4 separate regions of the Homo sapiens genome follow, and all the other regions are linked to region 2. Evidence: fine-mapped expression QTL. A gene starts in region 2. Each other region holds a variant in brackets. All regions are shown on one strand. Distances are from middle to middle.

Region 1 (4,599 bases), 30 kb before region 2:
CTTTGTCACTGATATCACTCAGCCTCGGGTTTGTAGATTGATTTGGGGGAAGATTACTGATTTTTTTGTTTTTTGAGATGGAGTCTCGCTCTGTCACCCAGGCTGGAGCGCAGTGGTGCAATCTCGGCTCACTGCAACCTCCACCTCCTGGGTTCAAGCAATTCTCCCTGCCTCAGCCCCCCAGGTAGCTGGGACTACAGGTGCCCACTAGCATGCCCGGCTAATTTTTGTATTTTCAGTAGAGACGGGGTTTCGCCGTATTGGCCAGGCTGGTCTTGAACTCCTGACCTCAGGTGATCCGCCCGACTCGGCCTCCCAAAATGCTGAAATTACAGGTGTGAGCCACTGCGCCCGGCCTGATTACTGATTTCATAGAAATAATCCTTTATATTTTAACCCATGGAGAAACTGAAACCCAGAGAGGGAAAGTGAGCTGCCTCAAGTTCTAGAGCCCACGGTGACTGGGCCAGCTGTGCACCCTGCCCACTGGAGGCCAGGGTGCCTTTGAGCGCGTCACTCCTGATCCCTTTCTCAGGGGTCTCCCCAGTTAAACAAAGGGCGAGACCCGCCTGCCTCCTTCCAGACAAGTAGGCCCAGCTCCCCACCAGCGAGAGGGGCACGCCCTCCCAGCTCCCTGGGTACCCTCTTCCAAAGTGGAACCCAGCTGGAGCCCTGAATGGGAGGTAACTGAAGTCTGGGCTGAGGGACAGCCTGCCTCGTCCCATCTTGCCACACATTCCTGGCCGTGAGGCTGCCTCTAGAGATGTAGGGCAACAGGACCCTCCGCTTCCTGGGAGAGCCATGGGATCAGGGTGAGGAGAGCTCAGTCTCTGGCTCCAGCCTGGAGCCCTGCTTCCTGCCCCAGGGCTTCTGAATACCAGAGAGGTCACCTGGGAGGGTAGGAGGCGGGAGATGGGGGCGGGGGGGGGGGTGGGCATCACGTCAGCAAAAGTAAGGAGACTGGGCCGGGCGCGGTGTAATACCTGTAATCCCAGCACTTTGGGAGGCTGAGGCAAGTGGATCACGAGGTCAGGAGATCGAGACCATCCTGGCCAACGTGGTGAAACCCCATCTCTACTAAAAATACAAAAATTAGCTGGGCGTGGTGGCACGCGCCTGTAGTCCCAGGTACTCAGGAGGCTGAGTCAGGAGACTCTCTTGAACCCGGGAGGCAGAGGTGGCAGTGAGCCGAGATCACGCTACTGCACTCCAGCCTGGCAACAGAGCGAGACTCTGTCTCAAAAAAAAAAAAAAAAAAAAAATTAAGAGACTGGAGTCTGGGCTTGCCTGGTGCAGAACCAGAGGCCTGACTTACAGCCCAGGCCTACCTCCCCCGAGCCCTGGTCCCTCCAGAGAACCCCAGAGGAAGAGACAGTCCGAGGCTCCTGCCCTTCCGCTGCCAGACCCTCAGCCTCCTGTAGCTTTCTGCCCCATTCCCAGATGCCATGAGGTGCTCTCTACCCTCCTTCTTGGGGTCCCGCTCCTGCAAACACCCAGGGACCTGAATGACATGAAGGGAGCCGGCTTCTGCCACACCACAGGGCAGGGCAGTTGGAGAAGGAGGGGCTTGGTAGGGCTGAAGAGAGCAGGACAATGTGGGGGTGGCCAGGATGCAAGAGGTGTCTGACTCAGGTTCTAGGCCCGTGCAGAGGGCTCTCCTGGCTCGGGGATCTCCTGGCATTCCCGATCTGTGACTCACTGCAATGCCCCACCCCAGGGAGCCACCTGTTCCCCCTATAGCTTGGCCTCCAGGCCCCACCCTGGCCCCACCTTGGCTTATAGGCTCAAAACCCTAGGAGTAACCCAGGATCGGGCATCTGCCTTCAGTGATGGGGAGGAACAGACAGCCTCTATGAGGAATGAGCCCCCCAAGTCCTCACTTCCAGCTGGGAACTAAACAAAGGCCATGCCCTGTTGGAAGCAGGAGTCCTGGGGATGCAGCCTCGGGCATACCTTTCCCAGAAGGTTCCCCTCTTCAACCCACTTCATGCCCACGCCCTGTGCCCTGCACACTCTTGGGAACCAGTCAAACCCGGGCTTCAAGGTGGCTGGTGCCAGCTCGCCCTGCCCAGCCTGTGACTGCACGCCCAGCCTGGCGCCCACCTTTACCCAACCAGGCATGGGAACACCCCTCAGCCCACCCTGCTGCAGGAAGCAGAGCCCAGGACCTTCTCACCAAGGTGTGGAGAGGGCCCAAGAAGGCCGCTTTAGGGCTGAGCTCTAGCCCATGGGCAGGAGCAAGGGCTGCTCAATACGTGGGGTGGTGGAGGAGGGGGAATGCCACAGGCTCTGCAGAGCGGGAGGCCCTACCGGTCCAGCTGCAGCCGCAGGGGCGAGGGGCTCTGGCGGATCTTGCTCTGGGCCTCGGCATGCAGCATGCCCTCCGCGCTTTCCCCGTTGATGGCCACGATTATGTCTCCAGGCCGGAGGTCAGCGTCCTTGGCTTTGCCCCGCTCGGCCACCTGTAGGGATGAGGAGCTGGCATGCTCAGACC[G/C]TGGCCCAGCTGGAGAAGGGACTTCCCACTCTGCTACCCAAGAAACACAGAGGCTGGCTTGACCCAGGCCGGCCTGCACCCTCCTGCATGTCCCTCTGCCTGCTCATGACACCCAGCTGATCAGCCATCCCCTCCAGGAGCGCAGGTGGCAGCCCCCACCCCACACTGGCATTCTAATGGGCCTCCCAAAGAATGTGCAGTGGCAGAATTTCAGGAACTGTGCTTGGAAATACTTTTGGATAGAGAGCCTTGCCCGTGCAAATCGCACCTTGCAGGTGGCTGCCTGCACAGCCCTCCTGTGAATGTTCCCAGCCTGGGCCCAGGTCAAGAGGAGACTGCCAAGAACTCCGGGGCTCTTGTTCTAGTAATCACCCCAAATGGCTGCCTGCAAGTGTGGGGATAGCAACTGGGGAGGCAAGAGCCGGCCCTGTCCTGGTCCCAGCTCCCTTTCACTCCCAAGGTCTGTTCCTGAAGTGGCCACCACATCCCCGTGGCAAAGGGCCACGGCTCCCTTACAGCCAGCACGCCAGGCAGCAGCAGATCCCTAGCTCCAGAACAGAAAAAGCAAGCCATCTGTGCAGAGTGGGGTGAACAGGGCCGACCTCGCTTCTGGCAGGACCTTCTCATCTCTTTGAGCCACCATCCTTACCTTAGTCACCATGATGGGCGTGTGGAAATCCCTGCCCCCTGTGATACGGAAGCCCCAGGGCGCTGGCCCGGCCACATCCACCGTCAACGCCATACCTGAGGAAGAGAGGACCAGGAGGTGAAGTCCATGCCCCTAGCCGGCTCTGGGGGCACTGTAAGGCAGCAGGAGAGGAGCCAAAGGGAGAAGGAGAGGGCACCACAGCTCCCGGAGCAGCTACTCAGGGGCTTTGGGGTGGGTAGAGGAAGTGGCTAACTCCCTCCCTCAGCCCGGTTTCACTTCCCCCCACCCTGGGAAGCCATGCTTCTGGGTTCTCCCTTCCTTAGTCTTCAGCCCAGGGAGCGACTCCCAGGAGGGGGCTGCCCAGGCTGCCAGGCAGGGGGCTTGCTGGAGCATGGGGGGCAGGGGCTGGCAAGTGGAGGGGATGCCAGCACCCCCTCAGTCTCCCCTCCTCCACCATCAGGGCTCAGTCCCACTAGCGCTTGCTTCCTGTCCCCAAAACCCACAGCACACGGTACTTCCTCTCCACTCTGGGGGAGGGCTGGTGAGTGGCCTAGGGAGAGCAGGGCTCAGGAAGCAGGAGTGACGGGTCAAGGAACAGGCTGGCACCAGTACAGACTGTGTAAGTCACTGGCCAGGTGAAGGACTGGTGGGGTGAGGCCGAGTCTTCACATGGGCCTCCTAGCTGCCCACCTCGTTCTTGGCAAAGTGGATCACACGGGCAAGACCGGGCTCCCCACCTCCCCCAGGGGCCGGCTGCCAGGGCAAGGAGGCCAGGGTTCATCTGTCAAGCTGGACACACCCACCCCCAGATTCCTGATGCTGCCCGACAGACAGCCGGGGTGACAGGCCTCCCATCCACAGCCCCTCCGCTGGGCAAGGAAGTGCCCTTGCAGACAGACCCCTGTGGGATTTCCTGAGCCTCTAGCTCTGGAGCCAGGAGCCAATCCAGGCAGGAAGCCGCGGTGCCAGGCTGGGCACCACCCTGCCCAGCACCCATCCTGGGGCTGCCCTGGGGACGCAAGTGCTGCGAGAATCTATCAAGAGCACCAGCGGTCTGTCCGCTCCATCCCCGGCTGCCTTCCCCTTGGGCCCAGGCCTAGCCTCTGTTCCCAGCACCGCCCCCACCCCAGTCCCCGAGGCCGGCTCGCGGCCGCCCCGAGATTCCCAGACCTTTGAGCCGGTCAGTGGACTCCGCGCTGCGGGCGCCGCGGGGAGGTGCCCAGCCCGATGGCCCGGCTCTACCAGTTCTGGAGCCTCCTTCGCTCCGAGGGCAAAGTACCCTGCGGGCTGGGGGCTGGAGGAGGAGCGCTCCGGCCGGGGAGAGCGCAGCTCGCGGGGGCGCCCCCGCTGATGCGAGGCTCCAGGGAGCTGGGCCGCGGACGAGGCCAGGGTTCCGCGCCGACAGGGGCGCGGAGAGGAGCCCGGCGCCGGGGAGGGCGGGCCGCGCGGAGAGGCG
Region 2 (5,496 bases):
TTGGCTCGACCCTGGGATAGGGGAGGAGGGGCCGGCTGTGGGAGGGGGTCAGGACCAGCTGGGTACTAGCTCAAGGACCCAGGAAACAGGCCACGCCAGGCACCCGCCTGCAGGCTGCCCGTGCCTGCCGGCTCCCAGGGGCACAATGGACCACTTGTTAGGCCCAGGGCAGGAGCTCCGGGTGGGAGTGGGGGAGGGGGAGCTTGGGTGAGGAGGAGGGGAGGGGCTGGCCAGGAGCCCGTGGGGCTCTCCCTGCACGGGTGCAGCTGGCTTCCCCACTCCCCCGGAGGGAAGGCGCAGGGGAAGTGGGGCAGCCGGCAGAGAGGGGGCCTGGGAACACAGGACTTTGTTTCAGTTCCCTCTGCCTCCCCCAGGCCGTGTGGGCATCTCTTGCCTGCGGGCACAAGGGATTACTCAGCCACCCGCCCACTGCCCTCCAGGAAGCAGTCAGCAGGGCCTTAAGCCCAATAGGGCCAAGGGGAGCGTCGGGGGCATTTCCAGGCAGCAAGACCCACTCTTGCGAGCTCACAGGGAGCATCGGGCCCTTCTTTGGCCTCCTTCACAGAATGAGGACTCAGAGGGCTCCGGGTGGGTGGAGACAGAAGCGGTGGGTGAGGGCAGAGCTGAACCTGCTCATGCCCATGGAGAGTTGGTGCTGAGTGCCCTGGGGTGTTCTGCATGTGGGCAAATGTGCACGCACATACACGCGCTCCCTGGCTCCACTTTCTCCCGCCCCTCCAGGCTGTTTTGTGAGTGCAGGGTCTTCCCTGGCAGCACCATGCCTGCCCACAGCCAGCTTCTTCTGCCTCATCCCAAGGCTGGGGAAGGGGAAGGGAGCCCTAGGCACCCAGGGAATGGAGGGGCAAGAGGGGAGCCCAGAGTGGGGGTGCAAGAGGACAAAAAGGGGCTCCCAGTTTGGGGTGTCCAAGGGGGCTTTTTGACCCAGAGCACGGTGCTACGGCGTCCATCCCTCCGCGTCTTGGCTGCTGGACTGGACCAGAAACAGCCAAGCTCTGCCACTGCCCAGGACTGGATGGAATCAGGTTTGCCTGTGCCTGTGGGGTCCTTGGGGGCTCTCAGGGAGGGCTGCAAATGCATCGGGAGGAGCTGTGTGTATGTGTGTGTTGGAATCTGGGTGCAGAGCTGCGAATATGACTTCTGGGGGGACCACCGGAGGGACCACATGAGCTGCATGGGGGTTGTGGGTACAGAGGGGTGTCAGCTGAACAGTGGTGGGAGGTGCAGTCATGTGAGCAGTGGAAGAGTTGGGGGCCCAGAGGGGATGAAGGTAGAATAAGGCTGGGATGACTCAGCCCCTGGACCCAGCTCCTGCCCAGGGCTAGCGAGGGTGTAGCCAAGGCTGGGGGCAGCTCCTTGTCTCTGGTTTGAGTTTGTGGGGACTCCTGACATTTGAGTTGCTGCGACACAGCTCTTCTGTGCCCATGCCTGACTGGGGGGAGTGGAGGGCTGAGGCTGGAGGAGGAGCAGCTCCCCAGCTGGGTCCAATTAGGACTCCCACCAAAGCAAAACAGGCAGACACACCCCAGTCCCCACACTCCACCTCCCCTTGCGGGGGGGAGTTGAGGCAGGGTGGGGTGGAAGGTCAGGAGACCTGGAGCTGGTCGGCTCCTCGCAGCACCCCTCCCTGCCCAGCTGACTGCTTCGGGCCAAATTGCAGCTCAGCAGCTGCCGCCTGGGCCATCAGCTGACAGCGCCTTCCTTCCCTGACCTCCCCGCCCACCTCGTGCTCGGTGAGAACTGCTCTCTTGGAGGATGGGTAGGGCAGGAGGTCCCCCACGACCCGTAGTCAGAGGTTGCTTACCCTTGGTGCCCCCATCTGCCCCTTCTCAACCCTGCCCCTTGTGTCGCCCCCCACCACAGGAACCTCCAGGGAAGGGTGGTCCGAGTCCTTCTCTTGGCAGCCAGGTCAGGAGACTTAGGGAGGACTTACAAGGAAGAGGGCAGCATCTGGGGACTGGTCCCCCATGTAGCAGAGAGCGGAGGGGTCCTCCCAGAATTCAGACCTCCCCTCCAGGCAGGCAGCCAGCCCCGGGAGCGGGGAGAGGCCCCTGGAGCGGGAGAGGGGAGGCGGCTCTGCTGGGGTGGGCACTGGCCTCCCTGCTCTGAACACTGCCCTGACCTTGGGTGCCTGGCCCTAAGAGCTTTCCCAGGTATTTCTCAGCGACAAGGCCACGTGGACAAGGACAGCTTTTCTTGAATTTCGCTTTTTCTGGTATGAGGGCTGGTGGGAGGTACTTCCCAGAGTTTGGGACGCGGACCCCGGGGAGGGGCTAGGTGCGATTCCCTGGGGTTGGGCACGGATCCCTCCCGCCGGCCTCGCCTACTCCCCGCCCCTCCTTGCCCGGACCTACCTTCCCCGGCGAGCAGGTGGCTGGGCCCGAGGCCGCCCGGGAGCGCAGGAGCATCCCTGCCCGGCTGCTGCCTGGCGCGGGCGCTCGAGGAGGAAGGGCAAGGAGAAGCGCGGGCCGTCGCGGCCCTCGTGACCGGGTCAGGACGGGCCGGGCCGGGCCGGGCGCCGGCGCAGGAAGAGGGAGGCCGAAGGGGCGCGCGCCGGAGGCCGGACCGTGAGAGTCGCGCGGCGGGGCGGGCGGAGTTTGGGTCTCGGATCTGGACTGCGGGCCGGGGCTGGGCCGGAGAGGAGGGACGTGCGAGTGCTCTCCGTCCGTCGGGGCGCGCGCGGGGACACTGGTGGCCCCCTGCCGAGGAGGCCTGGCCGGCGGGGAGGCGGCGCCGGGAGGGGCCGCCGAGGGTCCCCGGGGAGCCCTCTCTGGTTTCCCAGCTGCCATCCCGGCCCCTACCGCAGGGCTGGCGTCGGGGAGGGGTCGGGCGGCCCGACACGGGCCACTCAGAGTTTCCAGCGACATTTCCAGAGTGTGGGAAGCGAGCGGCCTCGCAGCGGAGCCAGGACAGGGGCAGGAGCGATGAACCGGGCGGAGCCAGGACAAGGGGGCAGGAGTGGTGAACTGGGCAAGCCGGGAGAGACGGACAGGCCGGGAGCGAGATGAGGGCGCCCCGCAGGCAGAGTGGCGGAGCGGACCAGGGGAAGGCCCCGCCGCCCCTCCGCGCTGGGGGAGAGGGTGTGCCTGCGGCGGCGCGCGGCCGGTCGTGTGCAAACAAACACGCGCGCGTACACTGCAAACGTGGGGACGCTCACACACGTGCAAGCACAGGGAGGAAATCAGCCCAAGGGAGCGGCCCCCCCGGGCGTGCCGCGCCCCTAAAGAGGATAAGGGTGGGGTCCCTTTGGCGGGGATGGGATTAGGAGGGTCTTGGTGTTCCCAGACACTGTGTTTGTTTTGATCTGCCTGCTTTTCCGCTGTTCTCGCTGCTCTGAGCTGGGTCCCCAGAGCCCCGGCCCTTCCGGCTCCCCATCCATTCTGGTCATCCCCTCTCCCTGTCTCTGCCCCAAGCCTCTGTATGGCACTTCAGAAAGTGGGAATGCTTAAGGAACATTGAAGGACCGTGGAAACACTCTGGAATCCTTTCTGGCCCTTGAGTTGGCTCAGGGATCCCCAAGCCCCAAACCAGCCAACCAACCAACAGTTACTGATCAACTTTAGCTACGAGCTGGGAGTGATCAATGCTAAATTATGAAAACTAACGTAATCTCCTGCATTCCTACTGGGTGTCAGACTGGTGCCAGAGGCCACGAGGAGTTTTGGAGTGTTTTCCAAGCTCACCACTCAACTCAAAGTTTGGAAAGAAAGAGAGTAGAGAAAAGACTAAGTGATTTTCAGTCCCTACCACCATTACTGCTTTAGTCTTATCTTCTCCCTCGTTCTGGTAAAGAAGCTCTCCCCGTTGCCTTGAAACATCACATGTGAAAGCTGGAGGAGATGTTTGGGTTGAGAAGCTTCAGATAGGCCTGCTGGCCTCTAGCGCCTGCGGGGCTGCCATGTGGACACACAGCTGCACCAGCAGCAGTGGGACCACTGGGGGACACGTCATAGGGAAGCAGGTCCAAGGCTTCCCAGGACAAATTTTTACATGATTCCAGGGGTTCTGAGTCTGCCAGTTGTGGGGCATCTATGTAAAGGCAACTGTTGCACTGAGCGGGGAGCTGAACAAGATGACCTTGAAGACTCCTTCCAAGAACCTCTGACTCTCCAGGAAGGCGGAGAGATGGGGATGGCAGGGGCATTGCTGTGGAGGACAGCTGAGCAGTGGGGGAACCCTGGGACACTTCTTGAGGGACGCAGCAGTGCACTGCCCCCCAACCTGAAGCTTAGAAACCTTCTTATCCACGCCAGGTAGCCTCTTCCCTCCCTCAGGGATAAAATAGGTGCCCATTTTCTTAGACACGCATTTTTCCCACCTGTCAGGGTCCTTGGGACTAAGAAGGACCACATCGCTTTCACTTTCTTCCTTCTTCTCCCAAGATGGTGAAGCTGAAGCTCTTCCGACTCCAGGAATCCTGGCCATACCCCCTCACCAGCAGCAAGCTTCTCTTATTCTCTAGGGCTCTGACCTGGACTCCAAGATAAATATTTAGTGTAGAGGGTGCAGCAGAGCTGACAAAGTTCCCCACTTCCTGTTTCTCACAAAGGGAGGTGGCAGCCATGGGTAAGGAGCTGGGGACTGGCTACCAGTTTCATCTCTATGGGAATCGGGCGTTGAGTAAACAGCTTTGCAGGAGGAGGCGGGGTAGGTCTACGGGAGACCTGAGCTTTCTTCCTGAGCCGCTTTGACTTCTGCCTGTCTACTTAGGCCTGGGCTCTGCCGGGTTTATCACCTCTCTCAGGTCAGAATCCACCATGTTCCGTGGTGCCCATCTGGCCTCACAGCCGAGAGGATGGGAGACAGTGGGCCACAGGGCAGGGAAAACATAAGGAAATTTGACTGATTCCTCCCTTTCTGCCCTTATCTAAAGAGAAGAATTCCTTCTCTTTGAAAAGTAGATTAAGGGGGGAAAAGTAGCAGGGTTTGGAGATTGAGCCAGGAACCAGGTGTCTGATTTCCCGACGCCTCCCTCTAGCGTCAGCTCCCCTTGCTGCCTCCACAGCTGGCACGGTTAGGGAGAGGCTGAGGCTGGGAAGATTGTCCTAGATAAGGCGGCTGGCCGGCTGGCTGTCAACAACAGAACAGATTCCTTTCCTTTCCAAATCCCACTGCACTCTCTCCTTTGCATGCACGACTCCCCTGTCTAAGAGGGGCCTCCCTCCCTGCAAGTCGCGGCTTCCCCACCTCTGGCACTGCCCTTTGTCAGGGGCTGCCTCTGCCTTCTCAGAGCCACCTGAGCCACAGTAAACACAGTTACATAACTGCCCTGTTTTCCCAGCTACCTGATCCCAGGCATCAGTATTCCCCGCTCAAGCCCTTGAGGCTGCACCTTTTGTTCTGTGGGTAGTCCCCAACATCACCGTCAACAGGGGTCTGTCCACAACCCCCACCCCCCTGCAGGGGAGGATTAGCCACGGGACTACCAGTAAATGTGGCTCTTCACAGGGAGGGGGAGAAGGCGGTGGAATGCGGGTC
Region 3 (5,496 bases), 64 kb after region 2:
CAGCACACCAACATGGCACATGTATACATATGTAACAAACCTGCACGTTGTGCACATGTACACTAGAACTTAAAGTATAATAAAATATATATAAATATAAAAAAAGTGGTAAGTGAAAAAAGTCAACAGTATAAATAGCACTACAACAGTGGTTCTCAAAGTATGGTCACATTCATCTCAAAGTGTGGTAAACAGCATCACCTGGGAACCCGACAGAATACAGATTGCCAGGTTCCACCCCACGCCTGATGAGTCAGAAACAGGGTCAGGGTCCTGCAACCTCTGTTTGCACAAGCTTTCCAGGTAATAATGGTGTATGTTAACATTTCAAGACCACTGGACAGCACCATATCATTTATGTAAAATTAAAATATTTTATCTGTAAAAGCTCTATACATTAAAAAATTAATATATTAGATGTATTGGCTCAGCACGGCAGCTCACGCCTATAATCCCAGCACTTTGGGAGGCCAAGGTGGGTAGATCACGAGGTCAGGAGATCCAGACCACCCTGGCTAACATGGTGAAACCTCGTCTCTACTAAAAATACAAAAAAAAATTGCTGGGCGTGGTAGCATGCGCCTCTAATCCCAGTTACTGGAGAGGCTGAGGCAGGAGAATTGCTTGAACCTGGGAGGCAGAGGTTGCAGTGAGCTGAGATCGTGCCACTGCACTCCAGCCTGGGAGACAGAGCAAGACTCCATCTCAAATTAGTGAATATATATATATTTATTTGTTATGTATGTATATAATATATACTTACTATATATATAATATAAAATATATACTTATATATAATATATACTTATTATATATATAATATATAATATATACTTATATATAATATATAATATATACTTATATATAATATATACTTATATATAATATATACTTATTGTATATTATATGTAATATATACTTATTATATATTATATATTATATACACTATTATATATAATATATATTTGTTATATATATATATGCTGTACCTCTCACTAGAAAATACAGTAAAGGACTTTGCTTGTGCATCTCCATGTTAGATCCCTAGAATCTAACACAGGCACTGTTGACAATCTGAGAATCATTCATTCATATATACATTAGATGTATTCTGAATCATATATTAAATACAGTAGAAGCATGTGTATACTGGGGAGAGGGAGTAAGGAACTCAGAGATCACAGATAAGCACAAAAAGAATAAAACAAAAAAGAGGGACTTTGCAAAGACTGATGAGAAATGTGCCATGACCTGAGGAGCTCGATCAATTCAACTGAGACTTTCCCACCTCCTCAAAAAGGAAAGACTTTGAAATCCTGAATCCAAATGTTTCTCAGTATGCCTAATCTAATTACTGACATCTCTTACCTATATTACTAGATTAAATCCTCACTGGTCTCCCTGCACCTGCTTTTGGGCTCCAAAAGTCAACTGACCTTCTAACAGCCAAAGTAATTGTTTTAAAACATAAATGTGAATACGTCACTCCCCTGCTCAAAAAAAAAAAATTCCTCCAATAACTTCCTAGCACATTCAGAATAAAACCCAAATGCACTGACATGGTTTACTAGGCCTGACATCATCTATCTGCCCCACTCTCTGCACCTCTTCCATCTCTCCCTTACTCATTATTCTGTCTAGCCTCGATAGCCTCACTACTATACATGGACTGCCCTAGACTTGCTTCTGCCTGTAAGCTTTTACACTGGTTGTGCCTCTGCCTGGAATGTAGTTCCCCTGATCTATGCACAGCTTGTTCCCACAGGTCATTCTGTTCAACAATTGCCTCTTCAAAAGAACCTGCCCTGATCACTCCATCTAAGTTAGCTGCTCCTGTCCCGCTTTAGCTCCTTCCTCTGATTTGGTTCTCATGGATGGTAAACAAATACATGATGCTGTCCCTCTCACTAGAAAATACAGTAAAGGACTTTGCTTGTGCATCTCCCTGTTAGATCCCCAGAATCTAACACAGGCACTGTTGACAATCTGAGAATCATTCATTCTTTGTTGTTTAGGTGTCTCCTACACATTGCAGGGTATTTTGTATCCCTGAAGCCTGTTTATCAAATGCCAAAAGAAACTTTCAATCATTGTGACAAACAATTCAAACATCATTGTACGTAATTATGAGTGCATCTAAAGCATAGGTTCTGAAAAATGGAATTGTTGCATTAAAGCATATACACATTTTGAAACAGGCATTGCAAAATAATCATAAAGCTTAAACATGTAGACACATATAAATAACCTTGTGTGGCTTTATTCTTTTGAGGGGTTAAATTTCATTACCAAGATAACAATTTTCACAAAATATTCCAAGGAAAAATTATATTAAATCAATATACAAATTTAGAATGCACTTCTCTTTTCTATACCTACCTTTCCCAACCAAGAACACAATATATCTTTTGATTTATCTGGGTATACATTTGTGCCTTCTAACTCACCTTTTTGAGGTAACGAGATATATAAAGGCACAATCCACCCATAGTATAATGTCATTTGGTGATGTGCTTCTTGGCCTCTAATTTCAAGTTTTATTTCCTTATTTTATACATCAGGATGCAACTGTACAATTGTCTTGTATAATTCAATTACAAGGTCATGATTATCAAGAGATCTGTTCAACCACTCAATTACTTTTTACTTCTGTGTGAACAGAATTTTTACTCTGCCTCCAGAATCATTTCTATGTGTCAATACCTGTTCATCAATTGGTCATCTAATAACATTTATATCACCTGCTCATCTGATAACATTTTTCTCTTTGGCAGCTTCTGTGCTTTTAATACAGTATATCTTTGCTGAAAATGTTCCCTTTAATCTTTTCTTTTCTCACAAAATCAATTAAAGAAACTAAAATTTAGCTTCTTCTCTCACAGAGGAAGAGGAAGCACTTTGTTTTTATTTTTTTTTTCTCTTTAGACAGAGTCTCACTCAGTCACCTAGGCCAGAATGCAGTGGCATAATCTAGGCTCACTGCAACCTCTGCCACCAGGGTTCACACAATTCTCCTGCCTCAGCCTCCTGAGTGGCTGGGACTACAAGCACACGCCACCA[C/T]GCCTGGTTAATTTGTTGTATTTTTAGTAGAGACAGGGTTTTACCATGTCATCCAGGCTGGTCTCGAACTCCTGACCTCAGGTGACCCACCCTCCTTGGCCTCCCAAAGTGCTAGGATTACCGGTGTGAGCCAGGGCGCCCAGCCAGCATTTTGTAATAGGTACAAATGAAGAGGGAACACCAAAAGTCTCAAAGATAAATAAAACTTTACTATTTTGTTTTATCAGCGGCAGAAGTCTTAAAAATGTTCTACTCTTTGATCAGTTACTTCATGTGTGAGAATCTGATCTAAGTATCTGAAATGCCATCACAGATATATTCAAAAAGATGTTAACTTTAGCAATGTGCAGAGTGGAAATAATTGGAAGACAACTTTGTACCATTTAAATACAAGTGATATCAAATCCAATTTGCTGTTGTGTAAGATATTTAAATACCTCATAAAACACAAAGTCTGGGCTGGGCGCGGTGGCTCATGCCTGTAATCCCAGCACTTTGGGTGGCTGAGGCAGGCAGATCTCCTGAGGTCAGGAGTTTGAGACTAGCCTGGCCAACATGGTGAAACCCCATCTCTACTAAAAATACAAAAATTAGCCAGGCGTGGTGGTGGGTGCCTGTAATCCCAGCTACTCGGGAGGGTGAGGCAGGAGGATCACTTAAACCTGGGAGGCAGAGGCTGCAGTGAGCCGAGATGGTGCCACTGTACTCCAGCCTGGGCAACAGAGTGAGACTCCGTCCCAAAAAAAAAAAAAAACAAAACAAAAAACACATCAAGTCTGGAGATGAGATGTCCAGGTTTGGTGTACTAGTTCAACATCTTCACCAAGAAACCAAGCCCTCTGTACCTCTGTGATCAGCGATTCACAGGTCTGCTTTTCCTCCTTAGTCATGTCACCTCCTCATAGTCACAGCATGGCTGCTACAGTACACACATCCACATATGAAGTGAAATGGTAGAATGGGGGTCCAAAAGCTTCAACCTTGCAATAGTCTTTTCATCAAGAAAGAGTGTTTCCAAAAGCAAACAAACAAACAAAAACCCAGCAGAGTTCCCTTTATATATTACTGGTTAAAAGAAAATCCAGTGTTTACCCCTAGACCAATCATTAGTGACAGGAAATTGATTGGCTTGAGTAGTTCAGACCACCCAGAATTCATTCCCTGGGGCTGGGATAAGGGCCTTCCTTCCCTGAGATCAAAGCTTCTCCCTGCAACCCCAATCCCATCTATCTGAATAAAATAGAGATATTGTTTGTAAGGAAGACAGAGGGAAAATGTATGCAATAGCATGACCTGCTATAAACCTATTTTTCCAACAGTAGAGGAATGGTGAAATAAATTAAGGTATTTATATCATTAACTACTGTGAAAGTTGATCATATGAACTGGGTTATTCCTGTCATACCCAACTAAAACAGAGTCAAGAGGGCGGGGGGGAAGCACTCAGGACATATAACATTGACCCAAAAATGTAATTCTCTGCAAGCATGTCTGCCGAAACTGCCTGCTATTACTGGAAACCAGTTTTATCTAATGGCTACTGAAATGATCTGCTGAAATTCTAAGGCTAATTTTACCCACTGCCATCACTCACCAATCAAAACTGGCAAGCTCTCCAGAACCTTACTAGTGCCAATGAACTTTCTCAAAGAGCAACACATAACATTTCGCTTTTTCATAAAACCTCTAACCTTCTCTTTGTTCTTCGGACATACCATTCTGTCTGCATGCATGCTCTAAATTGCAATTCTTTCTTCACAAATAAAACATCTTAATTTCAGAGATTCATCTCTGTGTTTCATTTGACTTTGACATACTTGGTCAAGTATGAGTCTAAGGCTGACTCATCTCAGAGAAGATCAGCAGCCATTGGAACTATAGTACAAGGTAGCCACACTGGGGACCTCTGAAAGTCACCCCCTCCTCTAACGGCTTCTGCAAGTTGCCTCTTTTTCCCTTAGTGAGTCATTCTTGGACTGAACTCCCGATTTTGGTTGAGTTCTGTTTTATCTGGGATTTGGATGGGATGGTGTCTTTCCCCTTCCCGTCTGATCTGGCTGAGGGATCTCCTATTAAGGAAGACTCTTTTCCTCCTTGTAGACCCTGGCTGTGGGGTCTCAGGGAAGGGATTTTTCCCTTTGGGTTGAGGCCTTGGGATCTCTCTTTTTTCTTTCAGTTGGAGAAGGCTTCTTATCGTCCTTCTTGGTAAGTGGGTACTTTATTTTCCCATCTGTGCTTGCGTTTATTTGGCCTTTGCAAATTCAGTGCTTATATTTAATTGGTTTTTGTGTATTTGGGATTAAACCAGAGCACCCACAATAAAATGGGCTCTCAAAATTCAAAGGCATGCCAAGATATTTTCTGGGATTCCAGCCGGTAACATGTTCAAACATCGTAAGGATCATTCAAACAGTCTGTTGTTCCTTAAACTAAAAG
Region 4 (5,496 bases), 22 kb before region 2:
AGAGGCTGGGTCTCTCCCCCTGTAAAATGGAATCATGACCTGCCATCGTGAGGCTCATGTTAGGTAACACACGGAGAGGCCCTGGTGCCCTGCTCACCTCTCAGCAGCAGCCGAGAAACGGAGCTTCCTTTCTTGGCAGAGTGGCCATGCCTGGACTGTGCCACCACTGCCACCCCACAGGGACCTGCAAGCTCCAGGACTATAAAACCTTGTTCAAGGTTGGGCGCGGTGGCTCACGCTTGTTATCCCAGCACTTTGGGAGGCCGAGGTGGGTGGATCACCTGAGGTCAGGAGTTCGAGACCAGCCTGGCCAACATGTGAAACCCCATCTCTACTAAAAATACAAAAATTAGCTGGGCATGGTGCCGCAACCCTGTAATCCCAGCTACTCAGGAGGCTGAGGTGGGAAAATTGCTTGAAGCCGGGAGGCAGAGACTGCAGTGAGCCGAGATCGGGCCACTGCGCTCCAGCCTGGGCGAAAGAATGAGACCCCATCTCACACAGAAAAAAAACAACAAAAAACAAACAAACAAACAAAACACCCTTGTTCAAGAGGAGTTTTGGCTGGCTGTGCTTGACCACTCCCAGCTTCCCGCAAAGGATTGCTCAAAAGCCTGAGCCCAAAGAGGAGAATAAACACACACACACACACACACACACACACACAAGGGCTTCGGTGTGGAAACAGAGCACACAGAAGGAAAACAGCAGAATAGTTAGAAATGTCATCTAGCCCAGCAACCCCACGGTGGCAGCTCCAGAATCAAAACAGTCTGCAAACAAGGCCACATTCAGTCCCCCATCTCTGGTGTCTCCCTGCTACCAGGGCCTGGCACTGTTCATTCTCCCAGCACTTCTTGCCACACAGCTGCCCAATTGTGGGGGCTGCCGCAACCTGCCTGACACCCAAGGGCAGAGATCTTTGGAGGTAATAATGGTGTTTTTCCATCCTCCTCCTCTTACACACACACCTGTCCCACCTGTCTCCCAGCACAGCCCTCCACAGAAGGAATTCCCATCTCCTAGACAGGAGGAGGCATCCCCTACCCCAAGGAAAAGGCCGCAGAGACAAGGTCCCTTGTGTCCAGGTTTATTTTACATTCTCTTCCAGAGGGGATGTGGGGCTGGGGGAGAGCCAGCAGGCAGGCGGGCAGCACACAGCAGTCTCCCTGGGGAATATTTGAGCCAGGCTAGTGGTGCCTGGCCCCACAGTGCGGGGTGATATGCCAGGGCCAGGGCCAGGACTTGGCAGCCCCTGGGAAGAGGAGGCCTTGGGGCCAGAGCTCTTGCCAGGCCTAGATCGCTAAGAAGGTGCTGCGTCTGTCCCCCGCCTTGCTCCGCCCCCCCACACCCAGCTGGAGGCCAGAAGGCAAAGAGGGCAGCCAGCAAGCTGGGGTGCTGGGAGGAACCCCAGCAGGCGGGGGCGGCCTTTGGTCTCTACGAGGCTAGGAAGCTGGTTCTGGTTAGAGGAACCCCGTGGGGGCAAAGCGGAGAGCTGGTCCCTGTTAGAGGAAACGCTGGAGCAGGATGGGGGTGGGGGACTTGGGGTCTGGTCTCAATAAGGCCTGGAAATGGTCTCCGCTTCAAAGCAGACCTCTGTATTTGGGGAGTGGGGTGGGGAGGAAATGAAAGGGCTGTGGGAGGAATGCCTGTGAGTCGTGGGTGGGAATCAGTCCAGGGGGCTTCGAGGGGGGTCCGAGGGAAAGGCTGCGGGGGTCGTCTGCAGATGCTGGGAGCTCAGGTCCTGGGGAAGGAGGATGTGGGCGGGGGTCCTCTCCCTCCCACGAGTGCCACCGCTCCCCACCCCATCCTGGCTGGCTCCAAGTTGCCATGGAGACCACTCACACCGGGGCAACGTAATTTCCAGGGAACGTTCCGAATTTCTGGGTCCTCCGGGAGACACCTGAAAGAGGAAAGGCAGGAAGAGCTTTCCCCACTCCCTTCTTTAACAGGGATGCAGGGGTGAGGGCCTGCCCCCTGCCGGCAGTGCCCAGAACTGTAGGGGAGTTCTGTAGGGGAGCCCAGAGAGGGAATTGGATTTGCTCTCCTCCTTCCTGCCCCCTAGCGGCAGAAGCTTAGATGGGCAAAGCTACACTTCCCACACTCAACCACCAAAGAATCTGAGCAATCAACAAATGTGCATCACACTGTACACAGCAGAGTCACTCCCCCCCTCCTCCGCAAAGTGGGGACACAGGAGGAGGAATCACAGAACTGAAATCGGGAGAAACGTCCCTGGTCTAATAGGGCACCCTCACTTAGAGATGGGTGGGAAGGCCTATGGGAAGGCTGAATGCATTGCCCGAGAGCACCCCGACGCTTAGGAGTAAGCTTGGGACTCCGATCCAGGCCTCTCAGCCCCACAGAAACTCGTGTCTTGAAGAGGAGGAGGGGGGGGAACCCCAGCGGGCAAAGCATCTGGGGGGCCTGGCACCCGATGCTTCCCCAAAGCCAGCACTTCTGTTGGCTGCTTTCCTTCGTGCCATGAAGAGAA[G/C]GACGCCCTGGAGGAAACTGGCACCACCCCAGGGTCACTGATGGAGTCACTGGGGACCCAGGCCGGGGTTGCCGACCTTCAGAGCCCTGCCCCTTTTCCCTGCACACCCCTGCCTCTGGAGCAGCCCTTGGGGAGAGCGCCTGGTGGAAAGGACCAGGGCTCACACCTGTGTATCCCCACACCCCCCAGCTGGTTCCTCCAGCCTGGGAGGAAGAGGGAATGGAGAAATATAGAAATACAGAAATGTAATAAATATTATTATATTCCTATATATAGAAAAATAGGAATATAAACTGAAATGAACGTCACTCCTGACCTTGGGTGAATGGATGATCCTGGGCCTCCCCTTCCAGGCTGGCACCCTGACTTCCTTGGGGGCAGCCCGTGCTCGTCCCACCCCCACCCTCGTCCTCTGCCCCGAGTACCTCCCTTTCCTCTTGGCCTCCCCAAATCCTTCCCCTGCCCTTCCAGGCCCAGCTCCCTCATTTCCTCCAGGAAGCCTTCCCTGACCTGCACTAACTAAAATGGGCACCACTCGCCACCTGTGGCTGTTGGGCACTTGAGATGTGCCTGTGCAACTGAGGAACTGGATTTTTAATTTATTTCATTTGAGCTACATTTCAACAGCTGAATGCCGCCGGTGGCTGCCATACCGGAAAGGGCACAGGTCTCGCCCATTCCTCTCAAAGCGCTTGTGGCTCCTAATACAAAAGTGGTACTTTTTCTTCTTGTCTGCATAGGTTTGCAAAACTTTATTAGTAGTTGTAAAAAAATTCCAAAGCAAAAGTGTATCCAGTAAATTTGAATGCATCTCCAAGCACCGCCTCCCTCCCTCCCCCACTAGAAGGTAGGGGCCATTCACAGGCTAGTGCTTAATGGTCCTGGGTGGGTCAGTACAGCTGGCTGGCAGCTGTACTGGGATCAGATCAGGAAGGGTGGGCTGCCAGGTCAAGGGGCTGCCCAAGCAGCCCCCCAACTCCTCAGGCTTCAAAGCCTGCTTGGGGCAGGGCAGGGGGCTTCTGGCCACTCTCTTCTCTCTGGGGACGGCCCATCCTTTGAAGATGAGACCTGCACAGGGCCCGCCCACTCTGGGGAAAGAGGCCATGTGAAGCCTGGTGGGTTGGTCACCTTGATTCAGGCTGAGGCCAACCTGAGGCTTCCTGCATTTGTCCTTGGTCAGAGCTGCCCTTGGGCCAGCCCTGAGGGGCTGGGACCTTTCTCCATTCCCTCTTCCTCCCAGGCTGGAGGAGCCAGCTAGGTCAAGTGTGAGCCCTGGTCCTTTCCACCAGGAGCTCTCCCCCAGGGCTGCTCGAGGCAGGGGTGTGCAGGAGGAAGAGGCAGAGCTCTGGACGTTGGGAACCCTGGCCTGGGTCCCCACTGACTCCATCAGTGACCCTGGACTGGTGCCAGTTTCCTCCTGGGCCTTGGCCTCTTCATGAAGGAAGGCAGCCAACAGAAGGGCTGGCTTTGGGGAAGCATCGGGTGCCAGGCCCCCCCAGTAGCCCGGCCGGAAGCTGAGTCGGGGGGTGGTCGGCCATGAATCTTTGCTGAAGCAGCACTGGCAGGCAACAGCACCCCACCCACATCCCCTGGGGCCCTGAGATGCCCCCTCCCGGCCTGCCCACATACCCACAAACCAGCCATCGTCACACTGCTGCATGACATCCACCCTGTCCCCCTCGCGCAGCTCCAGCTCGTCTTCGTTCTGGGGCCTGTACTGGTACATCGCCCGGTACCTGCGAGAAGCGTATCATGGCAACCAGAGAATGGGCCCAGAGGCTCTAACCCAAGTGTTGCCGCTTCCTGTGAATGCCCCAGGGTCCCTTCATGCTCTCACTAGCCCCTGATCCAGCTCCTCAGAGCAACTCAGCCTGTGCTCACCGTAGTCTTTCCCAGGCCTGCCTCCTGCCCTCTGGGCCCTAAGCACTGAACCCTCGCCTCCTCTGAGCACCTGGTGCCTTCCTGTCCATTCCACCAGTTCCACACTTCAATTATACATGCACCGACCTCAGGGCTAGAAACCCAATGAGGAGACCAAGGCCACAAGGCCACATAGCTGCCAGGAGGGATTGGGAACATCACAGACCAGCGCCTCCTCCCTGCCCCAAATCACCATAAGCTCTTCGAGGACAAGGGCTACCTGGTAGAAGTTTCCCAAATCCACAGGTGGGGACTTGGGGGAGGGTGGAATATGGGGCATTGCCTGCCAGTGACCCCCCCCACGTCTGATCAAGAGCCCTCAGATGGTACTCACGGGGTCCAGTGTATCTGAGAGGTGTTAGGAGAGGAGGTCCCCAGGTCCAGGGGATGGCTGGGACCTCGAGAGTGGGACAGAGCTGGACCAGGGGTGCCAAGATTCTGGGAGTTGACAGGAAGAAAGGGATGTCAGAGGGAGGAAGACGATGGGTACATGTAAGCCTGAGGGAGGAGGCCCAAAATGGGCGTTCCCAGTCCACCTGCCAGCACGCCTTACAAACGGCTTCATCTTAGCCTCCAAACCCCCAGGGCACAGGGACACCTGCTGTGACTATTTCATTTCACAGGGGCCAGAAAACTGAGGCCCAAGTAAGGTCAGTGCCTGGGTTTCTGGACGCCAGCATGGATGAACCAAGAACACCCAGGGTCAGGAGCCTGGGCCGGCTTTGGGATTCCATCTAGAGCTCCCTCGGCTAGAGCTCGGTAGGTTGAGGTCCCCCAGGCCAGGGTGGGGCTGCCATACTAGCTTCTGCCCTGTCACCCCACTCCTATGTCCCAGGGCTGTCTGGGAAGGAGTCCCAAGTGTGGACAAGTCACGGGGGTGGGGGATGAGGGGTGAGGAGGAGGTCGACTCTCTGGTGGAGGCAGGCTACCTCACCTGGGTCTGGGGTCTAGGCTCCTGGGTGGGGAAGGAGAAGCCAGTGCGACGGGGGGAGGTCTGTCCCCCCAAGTCGATGGGGTCAGCTGGGCTGCGCAGGGCTGAGGGGGAGCTGGGGTGACGGGCTGAGCGGGCGGCAGCGGTCAGG

Which allele goes with the higher level. Positions count from the first base shown, and alleles are read on the strand shown. Sizes are in standard deviations (SD) of each study's normalised expression. Not every link is listed here.
As copies of C replace G in region 1, the expression in breast of the gene that starts at base 2,468 in region 2 goes down (small effect, 0.19 SD a copy in GTEx).
With allele G in place of C in region 4, the expression in adrenal gland of the gene that starts at base 2,468 in region 2 is higher (small effect, 0.30 SD a copy in GTEx).

The links. PIP is the estimated chance that this variant, and not a neighbour inherited with it, causes the effect. A credible set is the group of variants that fine-mapping cannot tell apart.
Region 1: its variant is the best candidate, but not a certain one, in a credible set for the expression of SORBS3 in breast (GTEx, PIP 0.80).
Region 3: its variant is the best candidate, but not a certain one, in a credible set for the expression of SORBS3 in whole blood (TOPMed, PIP 0.88).
Region 4: its variant is the best candidate, but not a certain one, in a credible set for the expression of SORBS3 in adrenal gland (GTEx, PIP 0.80).

Annotation. Positions count from the first base shown.
Region 1 is chr8:22,579,242-22,583,840 of GRCh38, reverse strand. PDLIM2 (PDZ and LIM domain 2) reads right to left here and starts at 3,366. Exons shown (of 9, transcript NM_001368120.1): 1 at 3,144-3,366; 2 at 2,311-2,462. The coding sequence starts at 3,236. RefSeq lists silencers at 1,471-1,765, 3,330-3,419, 4,150-4,309, 4,320-4,409, 4,510-4,579 and an enhancer at 1,440-2,132. The variant G/C (reference allele first, on the strand shown) is at 2,495.
Region 2 is chr8:22,548,899-22,554,394 of GRCh38, reverse strand. SORBS3 (sorbin and SH3 domain containing 3) reads right to left here and starts at 2,468. Exons shown (of 21, transcript NM_005775.5): 1 at 2,373-2,468. It overlaps LOC124901905 (a long non-coding RNA gene), which reads left to right and starts at 270. Exons shown (of 2, transcript XR_007060851.1): 1 at 270-2,233. RefSeq lists enhancers at 369-448, 562-1,437, 1,581-1,630, 1,438-2,315, 2,539-3,503 and 1 more and silencers at 2,301-2,380, 2,531-2,710, 3,021-3,150.
Region 3 is chr8:22,485,051-22,490,546 of GRCh38, reverse strand. All of the region lies in intron 3 of PPP3CC (protein phosphatase 3 catalytic subunit gamma), which reads right to left. The region is part of intron 1 of LOC124901905 (a long non-coding RNA gene); the gene reads left to right. Among named protein-coding and RNA genes, the nearest start is that of PPP3CC, 47 kb to the right of the region's middle. The variant C/T (reference allele first, on the strand shown) is at 3,061.
Region 4 is chr8:22,571,074-22,576,569 of GRCh38, reverse strand. SORBS3 (sorbin and SH3 domain containing 3) reads right to left here. Exons shown (of 21, transcript NM_005775.5): 18 at 5,349-5,496; 19 at 4,749-4,852; 20 at 4,124-4,230; 21 at 782-1,903. The coding sequence ends at 1,842. Among named protein-coding and RNA genes, the nearest start is that of PDLIM2, 6.7 kb to the left of the region's middle. RefSeq lists a silencer at 1,985-2,134 and enhancers at 1,524-2,242, 3,308-3,998, 3,999-4,690. The variant G/C (reference allele first, on the strand shown) is at 2,495.